Homo sapiens: one gene and its partners. The protein of the gene in region 1 binds, or shares a complex with, the protein of each later gene. Each region holds a gene or a part of one and is shown in the gene's direction. Other genes may lie near its edges.

Region 1 (8,363 bases):
CACGGCACTCCAGCTTGGGTGACAGAGAGACAGACTCCGTTTCAAAATAATAATAATAATATAATAATCAAAAATTGGAAGTAACCAAGATGCTCTTTAATAAGTACATGGGTGGCCAGGGGCTGTGGCTCATGCCTGTAATCCTAGCACTTTGGGAGGCCGGGGCAGGCGGAACACAAGGCCAGGAGATCAAGACCATCCTGGCTAACACGGTGAAACCCCATGTGTACTAAAAATACAAAGAATTAGACAGGCGTGGTGTCGGGCGCCTGTAGTCCCAGCTACTCGGGAGGCTGAGGCAGGAGAATGGCATGAACCCGGGAGGCGGAGCTTGCAGTGAGCCGAGATCCTGCCACTGCACTCCAGCCTGGGTGACAGAGCGAGACTCTGTCTCAAAAAAAAAAAAAAAAAAAGTACATGGGTAAACTGTGGAACATCCGGACGTTGGAATATTTTTCAAATTAAACATGAACTAGCTATTAAGCCACGGAAAGGCACGCTGGGACCTTAAATGCATATTGCTGAGTGAAAGAAGCCATTCTGAAAAGGCTCATACTGTATGATTCCAATTACATGACATTCTGGAAAAAGCAAACTGGAAACAGTAAAATGATCAGTGGTTGCCAGGGGCCTCGGGAGGGGGAGAGGGATGAATCGGGAAGCGCAGGGGATTTTTAGGGCCACAAAACTATGCTGTATGACATGTAATGGGGGGTAGCTGACATTATACATTTGTCAAAACCTATAAGAATGCACAAGGCACTGGGCGTGGTGGCTCACGCCCGTAATCCCAACACTTTGGAAGGCTGATGCCAGTGGATCACCTAAGTTTAGGAGTTTGAAACCAGCCTGGCCAACAGGGTGAAACCCCATCTCTGCTTAAAATACAAAACTTAGCCAGGCGTGGTGGTGCCTGCCTGTAATCCCAGCTACTTGGGAGGCTGAGGCAGGAGAATGGCTGGAACCCAGAAGGCGGAGGTTGTAGTAAGCCAAGATTGCACCATTGCACTCCATCCTGGGCGAAGAAGCCAGGCTCCATCTCAAAAAAAAAAAAAAAAAAGCACAAGGCAGAATGAACCCTTATGGAAATAATGATGGACTTTGGTTAATAATAATGTATCGGGCCCGCCGTGGTGGCTCACGCCTGTAATCCCAGCACTTTGGGAGGCCAAGGCAGGAGGATCATGAGGTCAGGTGATCAAGACCATCCTGGCTAACACGGTGAAACCCCCGTCTCTACTGAAAATACAAAAAATTAGCCGGGCATGGTGGCGGGCACCTGTAGTTCCAGCTACTCAGGAGGCTGAGGCGGGAGAATGGCGTGGATCCGGGAGGTGGAGCTTGCAGTGAGCCGAGCCCAGCTAATTTGAGGTCTCAAAAAAAAAAAAAGTATCAATATTGTTTCATCGATTGTAACAAATGTATCACATTAATGCAAAATGTTTATAATAGAGGAGTGTGTGTGTGTGTGTGTGTGTGTGTGTGTGTGTGTGTGTGTGGAGGAGTATATGAGAAGTCTACTTTCTCTTCAACTTTTCAATAAACCTAAAACTGATGGAAAAATAGTCTATAATTAAATGAGGCCAGTAAGGATGCACTCAAACTGCTAACATTAGGACTGAAAGCTGAACAAGGCAATCACAGTCCTGCCCCCTGGGGAGGTGGGAAGCTAAAAGTTCCTGTATTGTTTAATTTTTTTGTTTTTGAGACAGAGTCTTGCTCTTGTTGCCCAGGCTGGAATGCAATGGCATGATTTTGGCTCACCGCAGCCTCTGCCTCCTGGGTTCAAGTGATTCTCCTGCCTCACCTTCCCAAGTAGCTGGGATTACAGGCAGCTACCACCACAACCAGCTACTTTTGTATTTTTAATAGAGATGGGGTTTCTCTGTATTGGTCAGGCTGGTCTCGAACTCCCGACCTCAGGTGATCCACCCACCTTGGCCTCCCAAAGTGCTGGGATTACAGGCGTGAGCCACCACCCCAGCTGAATTTTTTTTTGGGGGGGGAGGGGTTTGCTCTTGTAGCCCAGGCTGGAGTGCAATGGCATGACCTCAGCTGACTGCATCCTCTGCCTCCTAGGTTCAAATGATTCTCCTGCCTCAGGCTCCCGAGCAGCTGAGATTGCAGGCCCATGCCCACCACGCCTGGCTAATTTTGTATTTTTAGTAGAGACTGGGTTTCTCCATGTTGGTCAGGCTGGTCTCAAACTCCTGACCTCAGGTGATCCACCCACCTCATCCTTCCAAAGTGCTGGGATTACAGGCGTGAGCCACCATGCCTGGCCTGAATTTTTATAATGAACATAATAGTGGCAAAAACATTGTTTCTGGTTTTCAATATTTGACTGGGGTTTAGGGAAGAGTCCACCAAGGGGGACATAGCTTGTTTTTTTAGGTGGGGGTCTCCGTCACCCAGGCAAGAGTACAGTGGTTTGATCATGGCTCACTGCAGCCTAGACCTCCTGGGCTCAAGCCATCCTCCCGCCTCAGCCTCTCATGGTGATCATACGGATTTGAGTCACAGCAGCTGGCTTAATATCTTTAAAAATGCATTTTAAATAATGAAAGTACTGCTCCTTTGATCAGCTTATGCTAATTTGTGTGACCAGCAACGTTGCATCTCGGAAGTCAAGGATGTGGCTGGGGGTGGGGCGGGGGGTTCTGGGGCCTACACGTTACATCTAGTGGTCATCAGTTCTTGGGGCTCGGGGAGCCTTTGGGACGTCCTCTTGAGATCACAGGGAGTGGAGACAGGACTGGGAAGTGACACACCTCACCCATGAAAGACCTGCCAGAGATGAGTTTGATCCCCAGCTTGGGGGCGTCCAGTGGTGAAGTGGGAAGAGGAGTGACATGGGTACTGGTGAGCACTGCATGATGATGCTACACAGTTTGGAGGCAGAGAAGAATCACCCCAAAGACTAATATTTAAACACTTTAAATTATTTTATTTTATATTTTAAGATGGAGTCTCGCTCTGTCACCCAGGCTGGAGTGCAGTGGCACGATCTCGGCTCACTGCAACCTCCACGTACCAGGTTCAAGTGATTCTCCTTCCTCAGCCTCCTGGGTAGCTGGGATTACAGGCACCAGCCATTATGCCCGGCTAAGTTTTTTTTTTTTTTTTTTTTTTTTGGGACGGAGTGTTGCTCTGTCGCCCAGGCTGGAGTGCAATGGCACGATCTCGGCTCACCGCAAGCTCAGCCTCCCGGGTTCACGCCATTCTCCTGCCTCGGCCGCCCGAGTAGCTGGGATTACAGGCGCCCGCCACCATGCCCAGCTAATTTTTTTGTAGTTTTAGTAGAGATGGGGTTTCACCGTGTTAGGCAGGATGGTCTCAATCTCCTGACCTCGTGATCCTCCCGCCTTGGCCTCCCAAAGTGCTGGAATTACAGGAGTGAGCCACCGCGCCTGCCCTATTTTATTTTATTTTTGAGATGGAATCTTGCTCTGCTGGCCAGGCTGGAGTGCAGTGGTGCAATCTCGGCTCACTGCAACCTCCGCCTCCCAAGCTCAAGCGATTCTCCTGTTTCAGCCTCCCGAGTATCTGGGATTACAGGTACTTGCCACCATGCCCGGCTAGTTTTTGTATTATTATTATTTTGAGACGGAGTCTTGCTCTTGTCACCCAAGCTGCAGTGCAGTTACATGATCTCTTCTCACTGCAACCTCCCTCTCCCAAGTTCAAGTAATTTTCCTGCCTCAGTCTCCGAGTAGCTGGGAGTACAGGCGCCCGCCACCACGCCCGGGTAATTTTTGTATTTTTAGTAGAGACATGATTTCGCCACGTTGGCCAGGCTGGTCTCAAATTCCTGCCCTCAAGTGATCCGCCCGCCTCGGCCTCCCAAAGTGTTGGGATTACAGGCGTGAGCCACCGTGCCGAGTCTGAAACATATTTTAATTATGTTTCTCCAGTATTTTTTTTTTCTTAAAATTTTCTTTTTTTTTTTTGAAGACAGAGTCTTGCTCTGTCGCCCAGGCTGGAGTGCAGACGCGATCTCAGCTCACTACAACCTCCGCCTCCCGGGCTCAGCCTCCGGAGTAGCTGGGACTACAGGCGTGCGCCACCACGCTTGGCTAATTTTTTTTTTTTTTTGTATTTTTAGTAGAGTCGGGGTTTCAACACGTTGGCCAGGCTGGTCTCAAATTCCTGCCCTCAAGTGATCCGCCCGCCTCGGCCTCCCAAAGTGATGGGATTACAGGCGTGCGCCAGCGCGCCGGCCTTCTCCAGTATTTTTGCATGCATCTTACGGCACACCTTTGCACGCCATCTTATTAACTATATCATACTGCCGCACGTGCCTTTTCGGCCAAGGCATCCAGATGGTGCGGGTCCTGCCTGCCTCGAGAGGTGGCAGCAAAGGAGCCAGTGCCCTCACTGGTGCTGGGCGGGGCGGCCGCTTTCCTCGGAGGGAAGGGGCGGCGTTGGCGGGGGAAGGGCGCCAGGGCCCAGGCCCTGAGGGAGGGGCAGCTCGCCCGGGCCACGCGGTGCCGGCCCTCGGCTCAGGCCGGGCTGAGGCCCCGGGGGCTCGGGGTCCGGGGGAAAGGCGCTGAGCCAGACAGGTCCCAAGGAGCCTTCGGGAAGGGAGGGCCTCGTGGCGGCCTGTCCGGGACCCGGCCGGGAGCAGGGGTCGCGTGGGCGCCGTCAGGACGGGCGTGAGGTCCCCGGGACCACGTGTTTGCGTTTGGTGGCCCAGGGGTCGCTGACAGGTGCGGAGGGGAGACGCCCACCTGGGTGCCCTGGGCCGCACGCCGGGCGGTGGGGCCGGGAACCCCTGCTCCTCCTCGGCCTCCGATCCGCTGCGGCCCTGGGTCCTGCTCGCTGCCCGACGCCGCTGCCACAACCTCCGCCCGGGCCCCGCAGCCCGCCGCCCGCCGGAAGCTGAAAGGCGTGTCCGACCCCGCCCCCGGGCGCGACCAATCAGCGCGCGCGACTCATGAATAGTGAGCGCGCTGGCACCGCCCCGCCCCCGCCTCCCGCGGCACCGCCCGCCCGCGCAGACCCCGAGCGCGGCCGCGGACGAAGATGGCGACCGCCATGTACTTGGAGCACTATCTGGACAGTAAGCGCGCCCCACGGGCCCCGCGCCCGCCGCCCACGCGGAGTCCTCCGTGCCGCAGCCCCCCGCGCGCCGGGCACCGCATGCAGACCCCGTGGGCTCGGGAGGGCGGCGGGCGCGGCCGGGCGCGACGGGGGGCGCGCGGACGGGGCGGGGCAGGGCCGCAAGGGAGGGGAGGGCGCGGGGGGCGGGCGCGGGGGGTCCCGCCGGCTGGGTCGCGCCAATTCCAGGTGCGTCACGGCGGGGCGGGGCCTGGCGATGCTGGGCGGGGCTTGCGGCCTCGACCCCGCCCACATATTAGGTCCCGCCCCTACCCAGGCCCCGCCTCATCTCCGCCCCCAGCTCCGGCCCCGGCCCCGCCAGGTCCCGCCCGTCCCTGTCCCGTCTGCAGGAGGAGCTGGCGCCCGCTGCGGGGCTCCGGGCCTTGGGGGCTCCGGGGTCTGGGCCTCCGCCTGGCTGTGCGCCCGTGTGCGCCGGCCTCTTGTGTGACCGCGGCTGGGGAGGGCGTGCGGGCCGCGGGGCGTCTCTCCCCGGCACTGGGGACTGCGGCGCGGAGGCGGGGAGGGCGGTGCCGAGTCGGCCCTGGTGGGCGGGCTGTGCTGTTTCCAGGTGGCAGCAGGTCGGCGCCCCCAGCGGCTGAGCGGACGGTGCTTTCCCTCACTTTACACACCAGGGAAGGTCCAGCGCTGCCGAGCAGCCTGCTCAGGGTCTCCCGCTCGTAGAGGGGCAGACCCCACGCGGGACCCCTGACGTCGGCCCGGGATGGGCACAGCTTTGGGGTCGCGGTGTTTGGGGTTGTGCCGGGTGGCTCTGGAGGGCCCTTGTGGGGGCGCTGCACTGGGGATCCTCATGGTCTTCGGCCTGGCACCCGCCCAGGGGCTGAGACAGTGGCGAGTGAGCCGTGGCCTGGAGCTGGAGACCGCTGCCCTAGAGGGACGCCCGATTCTGCCCATGTGCTCCGCTGTCTCTTGGGGGTCTGAGTAGTGGGGGGTTCCCTGGGTAGAAGAGTCAAGCTGGGGAGCACGCTGGAGGGGAGGCCTTCTCTATCCTGGTGCCCAGCCAGTGGGCTGGCCTCCCAAGGAGGGTTGACTTTGTGTGTGTCTGGGAGGCTGTGCCAGCCGGGAGGCTGTGCCTCTGTCCTCTAGGGGAGCTGGGAAAACACTGGGGCTGGAAGCATCAGATGCATAAGATAGAGTTAGGTTTAAAATGATTGCCTGGTAACTGTGAACAGCAGATGGGAGGGTGGCCAAGACTGGAGGAGGCAGCCCCCCTTAGGAGCCTGTGTCAGCTGTGCAGGGGGCGGAGGTTGGCCTGGTCTAGGGGGTAACAAAGCAGACGCGAAAGCAGCACGGGGGTCCTCCTGGCAGACTGTGGGGAATGGTTGCGCTAGCCACAGGGACTATTTAAGTAAAATTAAAAATTGAATGGCGTTAGTCCCATTTCCAGTGCTCAGTAGCTCCCTATGGCCACCACTGTCTTGGGCAGCTCAGAGAGAACATTTCTTTTCTTTTTCTTTTTTTGATTTTTTTTGAAATGGAGTCTCACCCTGTTGCCCAGGTTGGAGGGTATGATCTCAGCACACTGCAACCTCCACCTCCCAGGTTCAAGCAATTCTCATGCCCTAGCCTCTCGAGTAGCTGGGACTGTAGCTGTGCACCACCACGCCTGGATAATTTTTGTATTTTTAGTAGAGACAGGGTTTCACCATGTTGGCCAGGCTGGTCTTGAACTCCTGACCTCAACTGATTTGCCTGTCTTGATCTCCCAAAGTGCTGGGATTACAGGTATGAGCCACCACGCCCATCCGAGAGAGGAAACATTTCTATCCTTGCATAAAGTCGCGTGGGCAGCGTGGCTACACTGCTCAATGCACTGGATTTCTGGGTAAAGTAGGGGAAGATCAAGGAGGACCCAGGGGATTTTGGCTTGAGCCTTGGAAGATGCTGCTCACTGAGGGGGGGCAGCCTAGAGGGTGGGGTCAGTTGGCCTCCCCTGCCTGTGCTGTTGGTTTCCAAGTTTCCCTCTCCCTTCTTTGACTTCTGACAGCTTCCGAAGTGTGCACACAGCCTCTTGTCAGCACTGTTTGGTACCTGCATCTAAAAATGAGATCACAGTCCTTCCGCTCCGCAAACCCTGACAGAGACAGAATACAGAGTGGGCTTGTAGACTTGAAGTATAAAACTTTTGGCCAGTCCTGGTGGCTCACACCTGTAATCCCAGCACTTTGAGAGGCCGAGGTGGGCGGATCACCTGAGGTCAGGAGTTCGAGACAAGCCTGGCCAACCTTGTGAAACCCCGTCTCAACTAAAAATACAAAAACTAGCCGGGCATGGTGGCATGTGCCTGTAATCCCAGCTACTCAGGAGGCGGAGGCGTGAGAATCACTTGAACCTGGGAGGTGTAGGTTGCAGTGAGCCAAGATCGCACCACTGCACTCCAGCCTGGGCAACAAGAGTGAAACTCCATCTCAAAAAAAAAAGACAGAAAACCTTTGGAGGTGAATTTTTGTCTTGCTGCTGAGAGGTACATGGCTTCTGTGTTTTTGCGTTTCAGGTATCGAGAACCTTCCCTGCGAACTTCAGAGGAACTTCCAGCTGATGCGAGAGCTGGACCAGAGGACGGAAGGTGGGTTCAGACCTCTCCATACAACCAGAACTGAGTTCTGACAGGTGGGAGCCAGCAGCTCCTGAAGGCTGGGGGCAGAGGGTTTTGAGGGGACCCAGGTTAGTGGGGCATTGGCCTAGCCCTGGGCCGTGGGTATCACTCAGTGTCTTGCAGTAGGTGTTGATACTTTTGAAGCCACATTGTTTCTTGGGTTCTTACACATCTTTATATCATGTTTTTATAACCATCACCCTTTCCAATCAAAATATTTATTGCCAATTTTTTCTTTTAAATATTTTCAATTTTCAAAGTGTGTAGTGCGTGCATTGTTTTAAAAGTTTGGTAGTACTTTTTGGCCGTTTGATATTTAACTCCGTTTCTTTTTTTTTGAGACGGAGTCTTGCTTTGTCGCCCAGTCCGGAGTGCAGTGACGTGATCTCAGCTCACTGCAAGCTCTGCCTCCTGGGTTCACACCATTCTCTTGCCTCAGCCTCCTGAGTAGCTGGGACTACAGGTGCCCGCCACCACGCCTGGCTAATTTTTTTTTTGTATTTTTAGTAGAGACGGGGTTTCACCGTGTTAGCCAGGATGGTCTTGATCTCCTCACCTCATGATCTGCCCGCCTCAGCCTCCCAAAGTGCTGGGATTACAAGCGTGAGCCACCTCGCCTGGCCCTAACTCTGTTTTTTTCTTTTTTTTT
Region 2 (7,775 bases), on another chromosome or scaffold:
GTTAACTCTTTTCTGCACAACTTCCTCAACTCATTTTATAAGGCCAGTATTACCCTAATACCAAAACCAGACAAGGACTGTAGCAAAAATCTCCCCCAAACTACAGACTTTTATCTCTTATGGGCTTTAACACAAAAATCTGCAACAAAACATTAGCAATATAGAATCCAGCAAGGTATAAAAATAATTATTTTATGGCCAAATGGGGTTTATTCCAGCTATGAAAGGTTGGTTCAAAAATCAATATTCTATCAATGTAATCTACCATATCCACAGGCTAAAGAAGAAAAATCACACGATCATATAACTTGATGCAGAAAAGGCATTTGACAAAATTCAGCATTCACTCATAATAAAAACTCTCAGCAAACTGTGAATAGAGAGGTACTTTCTCAACTCAATAAAGAGCATCTACAAAAAACCTGCAACTATCATATTTAATGGCGAAAGACAATGTTTCCCCTTAAGATAAGGAACAAGGCAAGTATGTCCACTCTCTCCACTCTTATTCAACATTGTACTGAATGTTCTAGCTAGAACAAGACGGCAAGAAAAGGAAATAAAATGCGCACAGATTGGAAAGGAAGAAATAAAACTGTCCCTATTCACAGATAATATGATTGTCTACATAGAAAATCCCAAAGAATCTGCTGAAAAATTCCTAGAACTAGTAAGTGAGTTTAGTAAGGTCAGAGGAAACAAGATCAACACATAAAAATTAATTGCATTTCTATATATTAACAATGACCAATGAATGTGAAGACAAATTAAAAACACAATACCACTTACAATCATGACAAAGAAAATGAAATACTTAGGTATATATTTAACAAAACATGCATAGGTTCTGTATGCTGGAAATTCAAAAATGCTGACGAAAGAAGTCAAGGAAGATCTAAATAAATGGAGAGATAGACATATCGTGTTCATGGATTGGAAAATTCAATATACAATAGTAAAGATGTCAATTCACCTTAAACTGATCTATAGGCTTAACACAATTTCTTTCAAAATCCCAGCAAGGTTTTCGTAGATACAGAATACACTCATTCCAAAATTTATATGGAAAGGCAAATGACCTTGAATGGCTAAAACAATTCTGAGAAAGAACAATAAAGTGGGAGGAAGTGCTCTACCCAATGTTAAGGCTTATTATATAGCTAGAGTAATCAAGACTGGTATTCACAGAGGTATAGGCACATAGATCGATAGAACAGAATAGCGAACCCAGAAACAGCCCCACACAAATAGCCCCACACAAATATGCCCAATCGATTTTTTCAAACGTGCAGAAGCAATTCAGTGGAGGAAAAGTAGTCATTTTATTTGAGCCATCAGACAACCATAGACAAAAATATGAACCTCAACCTTAGGTTTAGATCCTATATAAAAAGTAAATGAATCATGCACTTAAATGTAAAATATAAAACTATAACACTTATAGAAGGAAAGATAAGAGAAAATCTTCAGGACCTGGAGCTAGATGAAGATGTCTTAGCCATGACACAAAAACATGATACATAAATGCAAAAATTGATAAATTGGACATCATCAAAATTTAAAATTTGGTCTGCAAAATCTCTTAAGAGGATGAAAAGACCAGCTACAAACTGGGAAAAATATTTGCAGATCACATATCTGACAGAGGACTTGTATCTAGAATGTAGTATACAGAATTCTCAAAATTTAACAGTAGGAAACAATCTGATTAGAAAATGGGCAAAAGACTTGAACGGACATTTCACCAAAGAGGTTATACAGATGGCAAATAAGCACATGAAAAGATGCTCAACAGCATTAGCCATTAAGGAAATGCAATTTAAAACAACAATGAGGTATCACTACACACCTATTAGAATGGCTAAAAGAAAAAGATAGTGACAATACCAAATGCTGACAAAGATGTGGAGAAACTAGATCTCTTATACATTGCTGGTGGTAATATAAAGTGGTATAGTCTGGAAAAGTTTGGCATTTTCTTGTAACACTAAATATACACTTACCATCTGACCCAGCAATTGCACTCCTGAGCATCTGTCACAGAGAAATGAAAACTTATGTTTACACAAAAACTTCTACATTAATGCTCATAGCAGTTCTATTCTTAATAGGCAGACATTGGAAACAACTCAAATGACCTTCAATGCATGAATAAACAAACTGTAGGACATCCATACTACAGAATACTACTCAGTAATAAAAAGCAACAAATCATTGAGACATGCAACAAACTTGGGTACATCTCAAGAAAATCATGCTGAGTGAAGAAAAGCTGATTTCAAAAGGTATGATTCCATTTATGTAATACTCTTGAAATGACAAATTTATAGAGATGGAGAACGTGTTAGGGGTTGCCAGAAATTAGAGGAGGAGAAAGCGGTGACTGTGACTACAAAGTGTAGCAGGAGGAATCTTTGTGGTGGAGAAAAAGTTGATTGTGGTGATTACACAAATTTAAATGTGTTAAAATTGCACAGAACTATATACACAGACTCAGAAATCAGTGCATGAAAATTGATGAAATCTGGATAAGGTCTGTGGACTGTATTAATGTTAATATCTATATTGTATTATAGTTATCTATTACCATTGGGGGAAACTGGGCAAAGGGTACATGGGACCACTCTGTACATTTTTTTTTACAACTTCTGATGAATCTATAATTATTTTTAAATAAGTATAATAAAGTGAGATAAGTCTGAAGGACTACGAATATTTTAGAACTCACGCATTTCCATATTATGGAATATAACTAGATCTTTAACATGGAAAACAGACAAAATACAAAAGAGCCTACATTATTGTTCATCCTAGAAATGTAAACGAAAATAGCCCAGGACAGTAGCTCATGCCTGTAATCCTAGCACTTTGGGAGGCCCAGGCAGGCAGATAGCTTGAGCTTAGGAATTCAAGACCAGCCTGAGCAACATGGTGAAACTGTCTCTACCAAATAAATAAATAAATAAATAAGTTGGGCCATGGTGGCATGTGCCTGTAGTCCCAGCTACTTGGGAGGCTGAGGTGGGAGAATCACTTCAGCCCCGGAGGTGGAGGTTGAAGGGAGCCAAGAGGTTGCAGTGAGCCAAGAGATCTCACCACTGCATTCTAGCCTGGGTGACAGGGAGCCCAGAGGTTGCAGTGAGCCGAGATCGAGCCACTGCATTCCAGCCTGGCGACAGAGTGAGACCCTGACTCAAAAAAAAAAGGAAAAGAAAAAAGAAAGAGAATGAGTTCATCATAGTTGCATATAGCACATTTCCAAACCCAGAGAGGTAAGCCAAAAAGGTTTGTTGCTTAAACATCTATATTAGGATTCAACCAAAGGATCAGAACCAGTAGGAAATTATATATATATATATATATATACACACACACACATATATATATACACACACACATATATATATACATACACACACACATACATATATATATACACACACACACACATACACCCACGGTGCCCAGCCTGCCAGAAGAATGCGTGGTGGGAATATACGTATATATACTCCCTGTTCATTCATTTCTTCGAAGCTATTGTCTTAGACGATTATGGTGGCCAAGTAAATCCAAAATCTGTAGGGCATACAGTCAGGAAGGGAAGATCAGGAGCAGGCTGGAACCAATGGACATAGGCCAAAGGTGTCATCCATAGGGGAAATTCTCTTTCTCTGACGTACTCAGCACCCTCAGCCCTGATTGAAAGGCTTTCCAACTGATTCCGTCAGGCCCACCTAGATTATCCAGGATTATCTCCCTAACTTTAAGTCAACTGATTAGGAGCTTTAATTACATCAGCAAAATACCTCCAGAGCAACACCTGGATTGGCATTCGATCAAATAACTGTGGGCGATAGCCTAACCAGTGGACACATCGAAAAAGCCACACAACATCACAAACCACCTGTGCTGGCAACTGAATAAATGAATTATGTTAATAGCCACCTTGGCTTTATTATTACAGGTAATTCAAGCACAAGCGACATAAATCAATAGCGGCCACCGAGTTGATGTATGAGAGTCCCACTTTGGAACTTCAGAGTTGGAAGGGGCCATGAAAAGCTTAGTTTGTATTTCAACACAGCCGAGGCATCTGCACCTCGTCCTCTCTAGCGCTCGGCGGGGCTGGGGCGTCTCGGGCAGTGGCGCACCCAGCTGGACGGGAGGGGAGCCCACCTGGAACGCGGCGCCGCGGGTGCGGGAGCGGCGAGTGGGCGGGGCGTCGAGGCGGCGGGTGGCGACGGCGCCCAGCCCGCCAGAAGAACGCGCGGCGGGCAGACGGCTGGGAGCCGCTCCGGTAGGGCGAGCGCGGCCGGCGGTGGGTGGGAGGAGAGGTTGGGGGAGGAAGGAAAGGGAAGAGGCGGAGCGTGGGAGCGCACAGTGTCAGGAATACAATAGTGCTCCGCGCCGCCTCAGCCGCCGCCGCCGCCCAACCGCCTGCCCAGCGCTGAGGCCTGACGGGCCGGGCGGACGAGGGCCGAGGGCGGGAGCTGAGGCGCGGGGGGCGGCCCCGGCGGGGGGCGGGGGCGAGGAGGGGATTAAGGGGCAGGTGCGAGGGAGGGAAGAGAAGAAAGCGAGCGGTTAGGGGGGCGGTTACCACTCCGACCGGACTCACCCGGCACATTGCCGGGCCGCGGCGTGGAGCCGGGCAGGAGCCGCGAGCCAGCTGCGCGAAGGTAGGCGCCGCGGAGGCCGGACCCGGCGCGGGCGAGGTTGGGGGCGTCGCACCGGCTGGGCGGCGGGAGCGGCGGCCTCCGGGAGTGGAAGCGGGCGGCGCGGAGCGCACAGTCCCGGCCCGGCCTCGCCGCGCTCCGGGTCGCTCCGGTTCCACATCGTGGTCGCCTCCGGCGTCCCCGGCGCCTTGGGGCCGAGAGCGTGTGTGGGCTGAGGTAAAGTGCCTGGTGGCCCCTCTGCCCGCCCGGGTAGTGCCTGGTGGCCCGGGCGGGGGGCGGGGGCGGACGCGCGAGCTCGGCTGCAGCTCCCGGCTACACCGGGCAGGAATTGAGCGCCATAACTGTTGCGGCTCTTTCCTCCGGTGCCCCCTCCTGGCGCCCCCTCCTCCGTTCCTGCCCTTTGCCTGGCTTCGGGGCTGACGGGGCCAGACCCGTGGCGGGAGGACCTGCTCTGTCGGCCGCCAGGGGTCGGATGCTCCAGGGAGCGAGGGCGCGCCCTGGCTGTTTAGCTGTTGGGGGGCGGAAAGAACCGAGTGCCTGGAGAGGGGAGAACGGGTGGTGCTGGGTGCGGCGAGGCACCCCGGGAAGCCCGGGTGCCCACCCGGCGGGAGCGGGAGCGCGGGCGCCCGGCGGGCTGGCGAACTTTCCCTCCCACTGGCGGCATTGTTCGAACTGCGGGTCCGTGGCCGCCGAGCGTCGGGCGGTCCGGGGGTGGGAAAATCGTGAGGGCTTTGCTAGTCTTCCGGGGAAATTTTCCCACCGCTGGGCACGGCAAAGTTAACTTTTCTCCAGCTTTCGAGTTCGTTTTATTCCCTCCGCCCCGGGGGCCGTAGTTTGTTTTTTTGTTTTGTTTTGTTTTGTTTTTTGTTTGTTTGTTGTTTTTTTTAATAGCCTTCAATCTTTTTCTCCCGCTTTTCACAGCAGAGCCAGTGCTTCGGTGGAGTCTAGCTTTAAATTGCACAGGGCAGCCTGAGTTTGTTATTTGTGAGGAGGGGGTGGCGGGATCTGGAGTGAGTGACCACAATGGTGGTATGTGGAGGCATGTTTCAAAGTTTTTATCGCTGTGCGGCCCTGGGACATATGTGGCTACTAGGGATTTGGCAAGAAACTTGTTTGGCCGCTTCTCCGACTTTGAGTTGCAAGGAAATCCGTGGCCTCAGATGTGCGCGAGTTGTTTGTGTGTGTGTGCCGTGAGGTGCGTTTATCTATGAAGCTGAGGATGAGATTCCCCCCTCCCGCCGTCTGATTGTGTAAGAAGTCAAAACCGTGTTGAAGGTGATTCCAGTGGTGGCCTGGAGGGAAAGGCGACCTCATTCCCTGTGTTCAGTCTGATAAAGTGAACTGCTGCTCTCTAAACTTGGGAAGTAATGAAAAATAATTTAGGTAAAAACTGGTTGCACAACGTCTTTGCTTAGTTTAAGCAACCCACAATCCACTTTCCCAGACCAGTTCTCCTGTTAAATACTTTCCCTTTAGCCACTTCTTGTCAGCCTAGGCTGGGAGGGGGAAAGAGTAGGGCTGAGAGAGGAGTCGGTCTGAACAAAGCATTGTGTTTTTATTTAGTTTAATACTTCCAAAACATCTGTAGACAATGGGAGTATGGGTCCCGGCCTTCGTACCCTTTGAGTAGTGTGGTTCTCATGCTTTTGTAGCATCATGTGATTACTCTTCGGATACGTAAAAATAGATTTTTTTTCTTTTTTGTTTAACCTAAGAGTATTCTACCTCCATAACATATCATTTTCTCTTTCGTTTAAAGTGAGCTCTGAGCTTAAATACTTGAACTGTAAAAGGATAATACCCTCTCTTCAAGGATTACCTGAGACCGTTGAGAAGTGTTTCAGTGCCCAGCGTGTATTCAACTTTCAATCGATGTTAGCCACCATCTTTGCCACCTTTTCTCCAGTTGTGCTCTTCTTTATGCTTTTGTTTGCTAGAGAATAGCTTTTAACCCAATATTGTTGCCTTGCTTTCTGTCCAGTCAATTCTGGAATACTCAGGGGTGCAAGTCTGGCTCTAGAATTCACACTTTCTCTCTCCCCTCTTCTCTGAGTCATGTTGCTTGCCCTCGGCAATGCGATGTGAATCTGGTCATAGGTAGAAAAAAGTAGAGAAAGGCTTCCCACTCCTCCCTGAAGTGTTGTGACCCACCTTCAGGCCCGTAGGGGAGATTCCCAGGAGCAGGACAGGTGATGGTGCAGGGCTGGCATCATAGCTAAGAAGTATGGATTGGTGAAAGTTAAAGAAGAAAGGGTGTTGAAGACTTGTAGGTTTAGTATTGTCCTCTCCTTTAATAATGCTTGTCTTTTCCCTCTCTTGTGTTCCACCAACCATAACAACCCATTTTTTCCCCTAACCTACACAAAGCCATATCTTCTTTCTGCCCACTGCTTTGAGGTCTGGCTGGAACTAGGCAAGTATTTTGGAAGAGGTGGGGGAGGTAGGAGGCATCAGGTGCTGGTAAAGACATGGCATTAGGGAGGGCTCTTACAAGCCTTGATCAGAGTTACAGAGAGCCAGTCCAAAAATGAAGCTGAGCATTATCAGGGGACATAATGCACCTACCTCCTTGTGGAGCTTACACAAAATAGGAGCTGAGAAGACAGAGGTAATATGCTGTCTTACATTAAGAAAATCTCTCATTGAGGTATGATTTACTATGATCTTGACTTGTCCCACAATATAGGTGAGAAGTGAGTGTTAGGTGACACCTGTCTGGCACTCTCCTAACATGGGGACACTTTAATGGCTCACAAGTTTCTGTTGTTCCAGTTACAGTGGCTGGGAAAGCTGAAACATTCTGGTTTGTATGGTGGGGAGGATCTAGGGTGAATGGGTAAAAGTGATGAACAAATAAACGGGTACTAGCAAGTAAGTGGTCATTACAAACCAAATAACTACCACTTTGAGTTTTCTGATTTCTGGAATCTTTATGACTCCCTCATGGTTATTTTTGCCTTGTTCCTGTAGGTCTTTCCATAGATAATAACAACAAAATTCTTACCATTAGAACTGCCTCTGTGCTTTTCTTGGGAGAAAGTAAAAAAAAAAAAAGGGTCCTGGGAAAAACTTGCCCGATTTCATAGCTAGGCTTGTGAAAAG
Region 3 (7,410 bases), on another chromosome or scaffold:
ATCAGTCATAGCCTGAAGTCTGTGTCCAAGGGAGTGTCTCAGGAGACAGCCACTTAACATGGTAGGAGTAGCAGGTGCTAAAAGGTTTATGCCTAAATGCTCCCCATGGACCCCAAGTTGCCTGCTGGTTTGAGTGGCCTAACCCATTTAGGCTCAGGCCCTGACAGGGTGTGTGTGCACCACTTCGGGGTGTGAAAGCATGAACAGCTGCGGAAAGCGTGGGTTTTCTGATGCTGGCTGCTGCTGCCTTCCGGATTAGGGACTGTAGCGGGGAGACAGAACAAAGGAACACATGTGCTTCTGGGTAAGCTGGCCCATCATAGTGGGGGACATAAGGTATGGGGGGGCACATACCACCTTGGTATGAACACTTTGGTTGTACAGAATTCTTTCAGCAAGGCTGAGAGGAGTGGGGCTTTCTGTCCTTGACTGCTGGATTCAAATAAGCACCAGTAGAGGACCTGGGGACTTTCACACTCACTGCAGGGGACTTTCAATTGTGGGATCTCATGGACAAAAGGGAATGGTTCTATATCCACGGCTCTATGGTTCTCACCCCCCCAGGAGTACAAAGCTGGGACCCCCCAGCCTCCTGGGTACGTTTCTCAGCATGTGCCAAGCACTTTGGAGGCAGGTGACGGATGTGCCAATTATCTGTATTCTGAGGTGTGGGCTCCCTTCATACTCTGGCAACACAGAGACGTAGAGAGCTCTTCTTCGTGTTGACAGGACACAATATGGGCTGGCTTCGGCACAGTGGCCATCACTGTGTTAGCATTCCTGACACACTGCTATTGAAAGCCCCAATCTGCTGCCAAATTACATGTAGACAGTGGTTTCACTGTAAAATGTTGCGGTGCTTGTTTGCATTCAGTCAAATACTTTGCACTTAAACATGGGTTAAAGAGACAAATAAGTCAAAAGACCTTAGCAAAACCTGAAGTTAAATTTACGCCTATTCTTCATAATGGCATTCAGATTAAAGCCATCAAAATGCAAAATGCTGTGATTATACCCTTCGAGGGTTCAGGCTGGATTCTTGTTTTGTATTTCTGCATTACTGTATTTGCAGTGATTTTGAGATGCAGGAAAATGCATCAGAGGCATTGATTTCTTCTTTAACAAAAAATAACCCTAAAATTGAGAAAATTCTTGAGAATGCAGCCATTTTGGAAATGTAGATAAAGAAGAAAAATGCTGAAGATTTGGGTGGTTTATGGAGCCGTATGATTTTGTCATTGCTGCCACCTACTGTATGTGGTTGATGTTTGTTTAAACTTAGGAAGTTCATGAAGGTGAGGCTGTTGAAATAGATAATTAGAGCAAGGTAGACATCATTAGCTTATAGCATTTCTTTTCTACCCCATAAGTGGCTCTTAATTACTGAGACAGCCGCCAGCTTTCATTCATTACCTTCAAGTGGATTTAAAGGGCTGGTTTCTTTTTTTTTTTTTTTTTCCATTTTTAAAGTTCCTTTGCCAAGGAACCTTCACAGTAATGCTGTAAAATGCGTTCAAAAGCTTAAGATGCTGGGGGATTTTCTGAGCATACATGCAATAGGTTGTTTTAAGGAGTTTGTTTTGTTTTGTCTTAATTTGTAGGAGCAATATTCTGGGATTGGATTGTAAATTAATTTCTATGAAAGAGGTGAAAATGGAGCTAGTGGAGCTGATGGGAGTTGCAGCAGTTGACTTGAAAGACATTCTTTTATTAGTCCTAAAACAAAGCTTCAGATCAACCTGCTAGTTAAATGTAACAAGCAATATAGACTCTGAGTCAACAGAGGTCCTTCTCTTTTTATTAAGACCCAGCTGTCAAAGGGTCATTAGGTCCTTCCTGTGGAAAACAACTTGCCCATTAATGTTGGGGGTGGTCCCTCGACAGGATTTCTGAGTAAGTGCCTGACATTTCGTTTTTGAAAGAATCTAAAGCTGTGGGAGACTTAGATGTTGAGACTTAGCAGGAGTAATGTCTTCAACCATAGCTTTTAGTCTTTGTTAAATATGTCACAATATGTGTTTGGAATGCTGCTGCTAGCTGCGTGAATTGACTTAGAGTGCCACTGTCAAAGATTCAGGAGCGTAAACTTCACGGAGATCAAATCACTATAACTGGGAAGAGGCTACATTCCTAAAGCGAATGCACTTCTCTGTTGTGATGTTTTTACCTTGTCACTACTCATATTATTTCTAGTGGCTCCTGTTCTAAGCTCTGGGAATGCCACAGTGAGGAATGCCCATTTATTTTTTCTGCCCTAGGCTATTTGCTTTCTAGAAGAGAAGGCCAAGCAGGGTCTCCTGAAAAGCCTCTCTCCGATCTGGGCCGTCTCTCCTACCTGGCATATTGGAAGAGCGTCATCTTGGAGTATCTCTACCACCACCATGAGAGGCACATCAGCATCAAGGCAATTAGCAGAGCGACGGGCATGTGCCCACATGACATTGCCACCACTCTGCAGCACCTCCACATGATCGACAAGAGAGATGGCAGGTGAGTCCTGGGACCCTGGGCAGCTCCGTGGCTCAGGCATCCCACACCAGAAAGGGTCCCTGGAGATAGGTGCATTCATTCCAGTTAAAGACTGAGGTTCCCTAACAGTATTATCAAACCTTTTCTCCTAAAAATAACACATGAAATGACACTTTTTTACTGGTTGGATTCCAGTGTTCTGTACCCTCTCATTGAGGTGCTTTCTGATTTTTCCTAACGCAGATAACATTAGTGCTAGCATATGTCCGTATGTGAAGCTGAAGTGAAATTTCAGCTTGTGATTACATCTTGTTCTGCCTTATCACATTACAGATTTGTCATCATTAGACGGGAAAAGTTGATATTGAGCCACATGGAAAAGCTGAAAACCTGTTCCAGAGCCAATGAACTTGATCCAGACAGTCTGAGGTGGACCCCAATTTTAATTTCTAATGCTGCAGTGTCTGAAGAAGAGCGAGAAGCTGAGAAAGAGGTAATGATTGTCTTTATCATCCTAAGTTGTGTAACTTCAATCTTGTAGCATTCTTAAGCTAAGAAAGTCATTAAGATCGTTGTCAAAAGCTTGGTTATGTAGAGATAGCATGTGAAATGATATGGCACTAATTTATCCTAACTGAGGTTGCATGGTAAGACATGATAATTTTATTGAATTGAGTATGAAAAATGAAACATTTATCATTGATTACAAAGCAGCATTTTTCACTACTGAGAGCATGTAATCAGATCAAATTCGGTGCTGAGCTCCAAGGCTGCAGTGTCAATTGATTCTTTGTGTTTATGAACTTGCTTAAAGTGCTCCTTGCCAGTGAGCATGTAATGTAGTGATAAAGGACTCAAATCAATTCGCTGCATCATTAATACTGTTAAATATCCCATGAAACCCAATCTTCTTTGATTTGTTATCCTAACTGATGCAAAAGGTTCCTGAGATGATGCAGCTGGAATGTGCTTGGCTGGCTGGCTGTCCTGATCAGAACCGACTTAGAGACACTTTGCCATTGATCCTCAGAGGCTCTGGCTGTGTAACTGCCCTCTCACTGGCCACCATTTTTACCCTCCCCACTTAGGCTGAGCGGCTAATGGAACAAGCTAGCTGCTGGGAGAAGGAGGAACAAGAAATCCTGTCAACTAGAGCTAACAGTAGGCAATCACCTGCAAAAGTACAATCGAAAAATAAATATTTGCATTCCCCGGAGAGCCGGCCAGTCACAGGGGAGCGAGGGCAGCTGCTGGAGCTGTCTAAAGAGAGCAGTGAAGAAGAAGAGGAGGAGGAGGACGAGGAGGAGGAAGAAGAGGAGGAAGAAGAGGAAGAGGATGAAGAGGAGGAAGAAGAGGAAGAAGAAGAAGAAGAAGAAGAAAATATTCAAAGCTCTCCCCCAAGATTGACGAAACCACAGTCAGTTGCCATAAAGAGAAAGGTAGGTGTCTGTTTAGATTTTCTGTGAGTCGCGTTCAATCAAATCTTATTTGTCATTGCAGACATTCTGTCTATTAGTATTTGTTTCACTCTCTGTTCTTTAGTCGTAGTTTATGTGTACCCAGTCCCGCTGATCATATATCATAATCGTTTATCTCACAGTCATGATTATGTTTACTTTTCAGGTTTGTTAGTGCGGTGACAGGAAACCAGGGACAGGCCAGCCTCCTAGTCTAGTAGTCACTGCCACCTGCTGGTCTGCAGGAGTAGAGTAACTGAGGTTTATGGGAACAAAAAGGGGCCCCAGAAAGCACTTAAACCACCCTCCAAGACCTAGAGGCCAGGAGACTTCTCTAAGGTCATATGACTCATTAGAGATGGAAGCAGAACCAAATGCGTGCTCAAGACTCTAAGCCTGGGTTGGGCGCAGTGGCTCACGCCTGTAATCCCAGCACTTTGGGAGGCCAAGGTGGGCAGATCACCTGAGGTCAGGAGTTCAAGACCAGCCTGGCTAACGTGGTGAAATCCCGTCTCTGCTAAAAATACAAAAAATTAGCCAGACACGGTAGTACGCGCCTGTAATCCCAGCTACTCGGGAGGCTGAGACAGGAGAACCCAGGGAGGCAGAGGTTGCAGTAAGCCGAGATCGCACCATTGCACTCCAGCCTGGGCAACAAGAGCGAAACTCTGTCTCAAAACAGAACAAAAAGACTCCAAGCCCAGTGCTCTTCATGCTGTTTCTTTCTCTTGTTCTTGGCACAGAATTGTTAGAAAGCATTTTAGGCCCTTAATTTTGATGGTGATATTTTGCATTTGTGGCCAACTGCGCATTACTGAATCTCCTCAGATCTTAGTAGCCCAGTGATGTCTCTAGATAGACCATATCATCTCCAATGGTACAGAAAGTAAAGAATTGACTTTGTTTTTAGGTAACTGCTCACCCAGATCTGATATCTTTGTCTTCAGTATCTATCTGGGACATAGAGGAGAGCCAAGACTGATAGAGATATCACAATACAAGCTAAGGCTCCGCCCCAAGGCCATCTGATGTGGCATCTGTTAGGGAACTTGCTGTTCTAACTCCCAGCTCAGCGCTCTTCTAGGCCTGGCAGTCTTCTGGAAGGGTCTCCATGGGGAGGTGGTAGAAAGGAGCATCCCACAAAGTAGACTTCAGGCTTAAGAATAATGTTTCCATTTCTTAGGAGGAGTGTGTATTCATGTGTTGTATATATAATAAAAGAAATTTGTTCTAAAACTATCAAAAACCAGAATCATCCAAGGCATGATCTGAACTGGACTCAACCTGAAGAAAACCAGTTCTCTACCTTGGCTTCCCTCATATTAGGGAAAATTCTCATGGATTAAAGAGGGCAGGCAGACTGGGGGGAATAATAACCGTAAATGTTTAATTACAGAATATGATTAACTGGCTACGTGTGTGCTTCAGTGAGCATTCAGAGCGTTAACAAAAGTAAGACACAAGAATTCTTGGAGGCCGGACACAGTGGCTCACGCCTATAATCCCCACACTTTGGGAAGCTGAGGCAGGAGGATCATTTGAGCTCAGGAGTTCAAGACCAGCCTGGGCAACAAAGCAAGACTCTGTCTCTATAAAAAATAAATAAGTATTTTTAAAATAATAATAATAATAATTGAATACAGTTTACCTGAAGGTTAGCTTTTAACCAAGCATATTGAACCCTTCTTTGCAGTGTATTTTCAATAATTTGGGGGGCAACAATTACATCTTAGCAGCAAATCTACCTGCTATTCCTCTATTTGAATTTTGTGTCATTAAAAACTTTTTTGCTGGGCGAAAAACATTTTATAATTACAATTATGGACAGTCATTTGTGCCAACCTTTAGTGCAAACAGAAAAAATATTTTTAGGCCAGGTGCGGTGGCTCACACCTATAATCCCAGCACTCTGGGAGGCCAAGGCGGGTGGACCACTTGAGCTCAGGGGTTCGAGACCAGCCTAGGCAACATGGCAAAGCCCTGTCTCTACAAAAAAGAAAAATAAAAGAAAAAAATATTTTTATATCATACAAATAAGACATCTGGCATGTCTTTAACATTTTTAGATTCCTTCTATTAAAATATTTTGCCAGGTTATCAGTTGCTCACATCTCAGCAGCCACCAATACTTGACTTTGTTAACATTTTAAACAGTAATCCTTTCTTCAGGTACCTTTCCTTTCCTTTTCATAGCCCTGAAGTCCTATGGAATGAGAAAAAGTAGGCTGGTCTTGTATCATATTTCCCAGTGCTGTCCACATAGTGGGTGCTCCTTCAAGAGTTCTCAAGTATTAAATGGGTTAACCCAGTGGCTAGTTAATTACAGCACCATTTATAAAGACATTAGAGTCTGTGATGACCTTAAATGTCTGTGATGTGAGGAATATTGAAGCCAGCAAGTACCATTGGAAAAATATATGCTAGAAAAGCAAAGCTTAGTTTTTAAAATCTCCAGTCAAGCTGCTAGGATGTTCCCTCTCAGAGCATCTGCTTGAGTAAACAACTGTTTTATTTGGAAAACACTTGCCTGTGTAGTTGGAGCCCGAGAGGGATGTTAGACATCAAATGGAAGGTTAAGTACAAAGGCATTACAGAAGTCACCACGTGTAAGATTCTCAGACACGCGTTCAGTACATGTCTACTGCATATCGACTCAACCATTTAATTTCTCATGAGCTCTTATGTGTTATGTTTGGAATTAATTTCAGAGGCCTTTTGTACTAAAGAAGAAAAGGGGTCGTAAACGCAGGAGGATCAACAGCAGTGTAACAACAGAGACCATTTCAGAGACGACAGAAGTACTGAATGAGCCCTTTGACAACTCAGATGAAGAGAGGCCAATGCCACAGCTGGAGCCTACCTGTGAGATTGAAGTGGAGGAAGATGGCAGGAAGCCAGTCCTGAGAAAAGCATTCCAGCATCAGCCTGGGAAGAAAAGACAAACAGAGGAAGAGGAAGGAAAAGACAATCATTGCTTCAAGAATGCTGACCCTTGTAGAAGTAAGTAGAGGAATGATAAAAACCTTACCCTTGAGAATGTCTGTATCTGACTGGGTGCCAAAGAGCAGGCCTCTGGCGTGATGCCCAGAGGCACCTGCGAAGTGGTGCTGATGCACCTGGAGCAAGTGCCCATCTGCCCTTTCCCATCCTTACAAGCTTCTCTCCCTTCTTCCTGGAATTGGATTTTATGTTAAACAACTTCTAAGGCCAGAACATTCCTCTAGGTGGGTTCATCTTACTTACCAGAAATTGGCTTATCCCCAAAAACTTTGAAGTCTGTTGACAAGAAACACATTACATTTCTTTGATTCTAATATGTACTTTTTTTTTTCACATTTAGTTATTTCTGAAATCAAGGTATATATTATTATCAGTGTGAGCATTGAATGGAATCGTTTCTTTTTTCCTGGAAAACAAATATTAGTAAATCAATAGTACATTTTATAATCAGTAGTGTCGTAGTATATACTACTATAAAGATTCA
Region 4 (7,874 bases), on another chromosome or scaffold:
TTCTGAGTATAGAAAGAGGCCCTAACAGGCAAAGACACCACCAGGGATGATTCTGTCAGTTCAGCAGAGTTGGAGAGACAAACTTAAGAACAAGAGGGGCCAGATTCCCAGTGAGAAGGGAGGGGTAAATAATTGAGCCCAATAATGTCAGTCTCCCTCAAGTCATTTTCCAAATTCTGAAGATGCATGAGACAGAAGGTTAAGAAGCTTAGCAGAAAGGCTCTGAAAAGCAGAGTGAAGAGATTTTGACCGTCTCATGGTTTTGCAGAAACAAGAATTAGAGTTCAGTATCCACTGGGATGAAGGGTCCCAGGGAACACACACGACTCTCAGTTGGAACCCCTGGAGGCTTATGCTACTGGAGCAGCAGCAAAAAAGAGGTGAATTAAATCTTGCCAAAACCCAACCCCAAGTTAACTCAGTCTCTGGTTGATTAAGGTGGTTAGCTCTCACTCTAAATGCTTTGCAAAGGACAGTAGGAATCCTTCTCTGGATGATGATAATACTATCCAGAGCCTCTGCAATTTTTCATACTTGAAAGTGTGACATCCTATTAAAAATTCTCAGGCAAGCTAAGAGCCAGGAAAAAAAATGACCGAAACCAATGGAAAGAATATACAATAGAAATAGATCCACAGAAGATTCAGCTATTGTAATGATTGGAAAGAGCTTTAAAATATCTAGGGTTAAAAAAAAATCTAGGATTGATATGTTCAAGAAAATAAAGGCAACAGCAGAGAAAATACATATATAAATAAATAATTTCTCCAAATGAATTTGATTTTAAGAATCGTATGAAAATTCTAGAACTTAAAAATATAATAAACAAAATAAAGAATTCACAAATGGGTTTAAAAGTACACAATTAAATAGAAAATATACCGACTCATGCATAGAGAAAAAAATGGGGGAAAAAAGATGATAGGAAATACAGATGGTAAACAATGAAAAATTCTGACATATGTATAATTTAAACCCTAAAAGGAAAGGAGAGAGAAGAGACAGTGATCAAGAATTTCCTAAAAGATATAAACCCACAAATGCAAGGGACTCCGCATACACCCATTGCACTCATGAACCCAAGTAGGATAAATACAAAGAAAACCACATCTACACACGTCATAGTAAAGCTGTTGACAACCAAAGACAAGAAAAAATCCTAAAAGGAGTCAAAGGAAAAAAGACATTACTTTCAAAGGAATAAAAGGGAGTGACAGAAACCAGAAGACAATGGAAGAACATCTTCAAAGTGCTGGGAAAAAAAAACCAAAAAACAAAAAAAACTTGCCAAATCAGAATGCTATACCCAGCAAAAATATGAAGGATAATGCAAAGTTTTAGGCAATAAAACCCCACAAAAAACAAAAAGCAAAAACTCAAACAACCTTGGAGAGAACTTGTCATCAGCAGACCTGCTGTAAAACAGGGGAATTATTCAAATAGAAGGAAAACCTTCAGACAGAAGCACAGAAATGCATATTGGAATGAAGAGCAATATAAGGATAAATATGGAGGTTAATCTAAATGAGTACTTATTGTACAGAACAATAAGTATAAATTCTTGTGTGGCTTAAAATACACACACAATTAAAATCCTTGACGACAATAAACACAAAAGGGAGATGGGTAGGTGGAGATACAGTATTTTAATGTCTTAGCATTCCCGGGGAAGTGGTAAAAGTAATTATTTTGTATAAGATCATAAGTCAAAAAGCAATGTTGTAATCTCTAAAACTAGTAATGTATAATTTAAAAATTAATAGAGGGGGTTAATGATATAGTTAAAATATTTTAATTAATTCAAAAGAAGGCAAAAAGCAGAGAACAAGGAATGTGAAATAGGTGATCCAAAATAAATGGTAAGATGGTAGGCATACATCCACATATACCAGTAATTATATTAAATGTAAATGGACTAAAAATGTTTCCTGTTGAAACCAGGACAGAGCAAACTTCCAATTTCAGGCTGGCATGGACTCTGTATAAGACACAAGTACCAAGTACAAGTGAAAAGGCAGGGATTCCTAGAGCAAAATATGCAAGGGGGAAATAACCTTTAGTTGCCAGCTCCACAGGGCTGAATCGTGAGTAAAGTTTGAGCTAAGAAAAACTATCCTTTCAGAGTGCAGATTGCTTTTTAACTTGCAAATGATGAGGACTTTAATCCGTCTTTGTTGCAAGATTTTTATTTTGAGAAGACCTCCTGAATGTGCCATTTAGTTATGCAAATGTAAAGCAGAGACTCTTTATGGAAGCTGTGTGAAAAGCTCAACTGTGCTTTGTTGTTATAAATTGTTTTAAATTCTTGCTACTGTTTAATCCCCAGTTTGGTCTTTTCACAGGATGGCTGTGGCTAGTTTTCTTCCAAATTATCCAAAAGTAAACACAACTCATCTCTGTATTATTTTTCTTCTGAAGGCCACACACTCTAGTCTCACATGAAGAACTCATTGTCTTTGCATTAATATGACTTTATCTGCCCTCTTTGGGAAATAAAAATCTGCCTATTCTACTAAAAGAAAATACATATATATATATATATATATATTTTTTTTTTTTTTTTTTTTTTTTTTTTTCCTGGAGGTGATTTCATTACAAACAGGGACCATTTTACCTGAGAATGTGTCTATCTGATTCATCTAGGATGAAAGAGATCCTTTCTATTGGATTATCATGTATTCCAAATTTCTCTACTGCTTTGGAGATGGGGCTTGGAAGTAGGCGATGAATGGCAACTCAGTCAACCTCACTACATTACACTTCTGTTTCTGTCAGTGTCAGGATATTGATTAGGCTGGACCATGATCTGAAAAGTTACGTTATTCTTACTGAATGGTCCAGAGTCTACCGTATGGAGGGTAGGGCTATGGATTAGAGTGGAGACGGGATAGATAGAAAAGTTTGGGTTCCCTCTTGCTGTGTCTCTCAGGCTGGAGTGTAGTGGCGATCATAGTTCACTGCAGCCTGGAACTCCCGGGCTCAAGCAGGCCTCCCGAGTAGCTGGGCTACAGCAGCGCCCCGCCACAAACGGCTTTCTTAACGGCTTAAAAAATTGTTCATTCACGAGCAACATTTTTTTATTTTAAACCGCCTACTACAGTACTTGTACAACATTATTCTAGGTGCTGGAGATGCAGAGTCATTATAGGAGAGCATTTACCAGTGAATGTATTCGGAATATATATATATATATATATATATCACATGTAAGTGCAAAATGACTAGAGCAAATGATACTACTACAGAAGTTCAGAAAAGGAAGTCAGCATGGAAGTTAAGGCAGTGGGTGAGAGGGAGGCCCTTAAAAGCTAAAGCTGAGATAAAATGAGGTATTGCGGGCGACAGTCTAGGCGGGGTGTGTCGTATGGGGTTGGGGACAGGGCAGATAAAGGTCAGGCAGCAGGATACACGTCCATGTCAACGATTAAACATTTAGTGTCTTTTTCATGTCTACTGTCTTTCTAGTGAATGCAGAAAAAAAAAAAATGCATGACTTGGCCAGGTGCAGTGTCTCAGGCCTGTAATCCCAGCACTTTGGGAGGCCGAAGAGGGCGGATCACTTGAAGTCAGGAGTTCGAGACCAGCGGCCTGGCCAACATAGTGACACCCCGTCTCTACTAAAAATACAAAAATAAGCCAGGCGTGGTGGCGGGCGCCTGCAGTCCCAGCTACTCAGGAGGATGAGGTAGGAGAATCGCTTGAACCCAGGAGACGGAGGTTGCAGTGAGCCAAGATCGCACCACTTGCACTCCAGCCTGGGCAACAGAGCGACACTGTCTCAAAAAAAAAAAAAAAAGTATGACTCAGTCTCTGCATCAAAGAGTTTAAAGTAGATGAAAGGCAAGACAAAGAAACGTCCATACAGCCAGTAGTGGACAGGCAGGCCATGAAGAACCGCCTGCTCGTGGTTCCAACGCCCTAAGTATGGACAAGAGTTCCGCACAGGGCAAGAAGGGAAGACCGGCTTTGGAATAAGACAAATCTCAGTCCCAGGCTCAGGTGCGCGCCACATACTAGCTGTGTGACCTTGTCCAAGTCACACGACCCAGGTCTGTGGAGTCTCCCATAAAATGGCTCTAGTGAGCTCCAAGAACCCTCTCAGCTGCTGGGGGAGGGAAGAAATGAAGTCACTGCTGAAAGGGGTTAAGACGGGTGCTTCTGGTTCCACCCTCTCCCCAACTCTTCCCACCGACACAGGAGAGCCGTCGGGGGCTGAGGCGAGCTGCCAGGGGTGAGGACGGGAAGCCGCCTCCTCTCCGCCCCCCAGGCCCCGCCCTCGGGCTCCGGAAAGTCGCTGTGCAGGCAAATGAGTGGGGAGGGAGGGCTCACTAACTGTAAACAGACGCCGCCGAGAGTTCCCATCCTGCGTGGCTGCCGGATTTCCGTGCCACACTGAAGCCACCCCACCCAGACTCCTGCCCTCAGTTTCCCCAGCGGTGGCATGGGGTGCACCAGCTCCTCCTCTCCCGGGTCGCCGTCTGACTTAAACGCGTGAGACGGGAGAGGAGGAACCCCCGCTCCCCAGCCTCCAGCCCCACCAAGTCCTCCTCCTCCCCTGGCTTTGGCCTTTTGTACCGGCCCCACGTGACCCCGCCGGCCGGCTCTTCCCTGCTGCCCCGCCCCGCCCTCCGGCCTTTCCCGGCTCTCGGCCCAGCTCTTCCCGCTCTCGGCCGCCCCCCACCCGCGCTGCCGGGCCTCCGCCTCCCCTCGCCGCCCGCCCAGGCTCTTCCAGCTCCCTCCCCCAGGCCGCCGTTCCCTCGCGACGCTCCCCTCCCCCCGCGGCTGTTCCGCCGCCTTGCCTCCCCTCCCCCCGGCTGGAGCTCACTGTCTCCAAGATGGCGGCCGTGTCAGTTTGGGGCATCTCCGCGGTCCGGCCCGGGGCCCCGGGATCTCGGCTGTCCTTCCTCCCGGTAAGTAGCCGAGGGGCCGTTCCCGGCCGCCCCCGGCCGCCCAGCCCGAGGCCGAGCCGCTCCAGGGCCCACTCCGCTGCCTCGCGGGGTCGGCGGGCCGCTGCAGGCCCCGCCGCGGCCTGCGCCGCCTCCCGCTGCTCTGCGCCAGGCCTCGGGCTGGGGCGCCGTGGCCGCCCCCTCGCGCCCGCCCGCTCGCTCGCTCGCTTGCTCGCTTGTTCGGCGCCCGGCTGCCCCGGCCCGCGGCCCGCGCGCCGCCGCCCGGCCCCGCGCTCGCGGGCCCCGCGCCCCCGATCCCGCCGGCCGGGCCCGCCCTGGGGGAGCCGGCGGGTGGGCGGGCGGCGAGCGGCCCAGGCCGCGGAGCCTCGGGCTGGCGGAGCCGGCGAGCCCGCTCTCCCTCGGGGCGCGCCCACCCGCCCGCCGCGCGCGTGCCGGCTGTGCCGGGCCGGGCCGCTTCTCCCCGCGCTCGCGGGCGCTCGGGTTCGGGCTCGGGCTCGGGTTCCGGCTCCGGCTTTGGCTCCGGCCGGGGGCGCGGGGATCCGAGCGGGGCTGAGGCGGCGAGCGGGGCTGACAGGCCGGCGGGTGTTGTGGTGCGAGGCGCAGCACGTGTGGTGTTGTGTCTGCCGGGCTGTCAGCCCAGCCGCCGAGGGGAGGCCGGGCGCCTGTCAACCTCGCGGCTTGGCCCGGTGCGCGACTGTCAGGCTCCCAGCAACCCGCGCCGCCCTCGAGCCGGCCCCCAGAGCTTAGGGTGCGGAGCTGGGCCGGGGCTATGCACCGCTCTGAACTCCTTCACGTGATTTCATTGTTAACTTGTGCTCGGGGTCTGTTTCCATCGCGTGGAAACGGTGCAGCGCCCCGTCGGCGAGCTGCCGGGCTGTGCAGATCCAAGTTTTTAAAGTTTCTCGCTCTTTGAAAAGAGAGCGCGAAGACGTGTTTAGGGGTGGGGAATGGGGACGGGAAGGACTGTCGGAAGCGAGTTGCGCTCGCTCTAGCCGCTCGTGTACTTTCCGGGAGTTAAGATCCGAGGCTGCAGGCGCTTGACTTTCCGAAGACCTGGAGACTGATGACAATCCCGACTGGAAAGACAATGAGTGACTGTCACTCATTCTTTTACCTGCGAAGCTTAGTCAATTAGGACGTTCGTTCCCAGCTTGTTAAACTCAGGATGTAGCTTCTCATTTAGTTTAGACTTAATATCTGTATAATGAGCTTACTTGGAGTAATGATACTCTGATTTCTATCCTCTTGAGACCCTCACCAAATTGAAGCATGATTCTCCCAGGGGGCTTCTTTTTAGGCAGCTGATTTAAAAACAAATCTTGGCTCAGGTTTGAATGTTTGCTTCACTCTTTTCTTTCCTATCAGAGTTAATAGTAATATCTCTTTCCTAGTGTGTATTAGTTTTCCGTTTGATTTTAATGTCACTACCAAGAATAGTTGCTGTGGGAGCCATTTGTCTAGCATTGTTTATATTGTAATGCAAATGATCTCCAGAATGAGAGCAGAAGTTCTAAAAAACACTTCAGTTAAACTTATTTTTGGAGGCAAAAGAGTTAGATTCAGAATTCAGTACTTTAGTGATTAAACAAGATTGCATCTACCAGATTCTTTTATAGGGATACTGACTTTGATTCAGAGAGACAGTACATTTCTGTTTATGTTTTATTAATGTTCGTTTCAGGACAGCAATCTTGAATTTATATCTTTATTATTTGGGCTTCTCTTTAGTCCTACAAGTAGCCAGTGTATTTCTTTTTCTGTACCGTCCGTTTGATATGTAGTATGTGCGTTGACCCCAGTGATTCTGGGCCTTCCTCATTTCTAGTTTTCCTGTCTGAATTACTTACACGCAGTTTGACAGTTGTGACTCTCTTCAGCATATGAATAGAAACATCTTAGTTTGGGTTAGGAGAAGCTATCAGCATGTAATTCTTAAAATTTGAATGAAAGTGGATTATTGTTAAATTCAGTAAGCACTTTTACTCTAGGCTATTTTCAATAGTATTTTTGTTTCCATTAGGAGAGATTAAGGTAATACTGTACTTAAATTATAAACTGGGTGTGCATATTGTATTCATTCTTTTCATGTAAGAACTAAAATTTTCTCAGTCGTTTTCTGCCTTATTGACTGTTTTTGTCTACTCTGAATGTCTAGAATTTTGAAAGATGAAAGATTCACTTTTACTTTCATTGCAGGATTCTTTCTACTAATCCAGATACTTGTTGAAGTGCTGACTAGTTTCTTGGGGAAAGATGTCAAGGAAGAGTTGAAATTCCTAGACTGGTGAGCAGAGATTGCGGAGTACAGAATAGCCATCACCCACTCTGGTTAGTGGTAGCTTAAAGGTCATTCTTAGAACATGTCATCGTGTTTCCTCATTGTATCCTAATTACTCATCTTTTTTTTTTCTTTTCTTTTTTTTTCTTTTTTATCCCAATGGTTTACATACATGATTGTTTTGGAATATTAATAGATAAGTTTGGAAATTCTTAAGGGTGCCTAGTAAACACTTGCTGTTTGATTGCTTTATGATGAGGATGCTTATTTTCATTCGAAATAGGTCTTGGTAGAAAACTGACCTTATTTTCATTGCTTTTCAGGCATAAGATGCACATTTTTCTGCTCTGGAGCCGGGAATGAAATATTCTTGAGTTCTTACAACTTTATGACGAGACCCATGTGTGGTGCTATTGAGAAATTCATTGGGAAGTTGGAAGACATTTCAATCAACAGGTTGTTTTGGTTTCTATAGTACAATTGGGGTGGCATTCTGTTTTGTGAAAGGAGGAAGGACTTAGGCCAGAAAACTCATATGCTATGGTTAACTGGTTCCCAGCCTCCGAGAATCTTGTTTTCCATGGTGTAAAACTTACTCAGCATCAGGATAAGGGATAACGACTCTATGGATATACAGAATCCTTCACCATGGTAAAACTCGCAAACCCGCTTTATACTGAGTGGATTTT

Evidence for each region.
Region 2: ING5 (region 1) and JADE3 share a complex: the UniProt entries of both Homo sapiens proteins name them as parts of the HBO1 complex.
Region 3: ING5 (region 1) and KAT6B share a complex: the UniProt entries of both Homo sapiens proteins name them as parts of the MOZ/MORF complex.
Region 4: ING5 (region 1) and KAT6A share a complex: the UniProt entries of both Homo sapiens proteins name them as parts of the MOZ/MORF complex.

Annotation. Positions count from the first base shown.
Region 1 is NC_000002.12:241,697,041-241,705,403, forward strand, and holds the start of ING5 (inhibitor of growth protein 5), read left to right. Parts: upstream 1-4,998; 5' UTR 4,999-5,025; coding exon 5,026-5,062; intron 5,063-5,427; exon of another isoform or gene 5,428-6,626; coding exon of another isoform or gene 6,627-6,843; intron 6,844-7,612; coding exon 7,613-7,684; intron 7,685-8,363. UniProt on the Homo sapiens protein: Component of the HBO1 complex, which specifically mediates acetylation of histone H3 at 'Lys-14' (H3K14ac) and, to a lower extent, acetylation of histone H4. Component of the MOZ/MORF complex which has a histone H3 acetyltransferase activity.
Region 2 is NC_000023.11:46,908,044-46,915,818, forward strand, and holds the start of JADE3 (protein Jade-3), read left to right. Parts: upstream 1-4,377; 5' UTR 4,378-4,676; intron 4,677-7,775. UniProt on the Homo sapiens protein: Scaffold subunit of some HBO1 complexes, which have a histone H4 acetyltransferase activity.
Region 3 is NC_000010.11:75,018,324-75,025,733, forward strand, and holds part of KAT6B (histone acetyltransferase KAT6B), read left to right. Parts: intron 1-2,258; coding exon 2,259-2,490; intron 2,491-2,802; coding exon 2,803-2,962; intron 2,963-3,409; exon of another isoform or gene 3,410-3,468; intron 3,469-3,557; coding exon 3,558-3,908; intron 3,909-6,634; coding exon 6,635-6,926; intron 6,927-7,410. UniProt on the Homo sapiens protein: Histone acetyltransferase which may be involved in both positive and negative regulation of transcription. Required for RUNX2-dependent transcriptional activation. May be involved in cerebral cortex development.
Region 4 is NC_000008.11:42,048,937-42,056,810, reverse strand, and holds the start of KAT6A (histone acetyltransferase KAT6A), read left to right. Parts: upstream 1-4,823; 5' UTR 4,824-4,910; exon of another isoform or gene 4,911-5,061; intron 5,062-7,508; 5' UTR 7,509-7,833; coding exon 7,834-7,874. UniProt on the Homo sapiens protein: Histone acetyltransferase that acetylates lysine residues in histone H3 and histone H4 (in vitro). Component of the MOZ/MORF complex which has a histone H3 acetyltransferase activity. May act as a transcriptional coactivator for RUNX1 and RUNX2.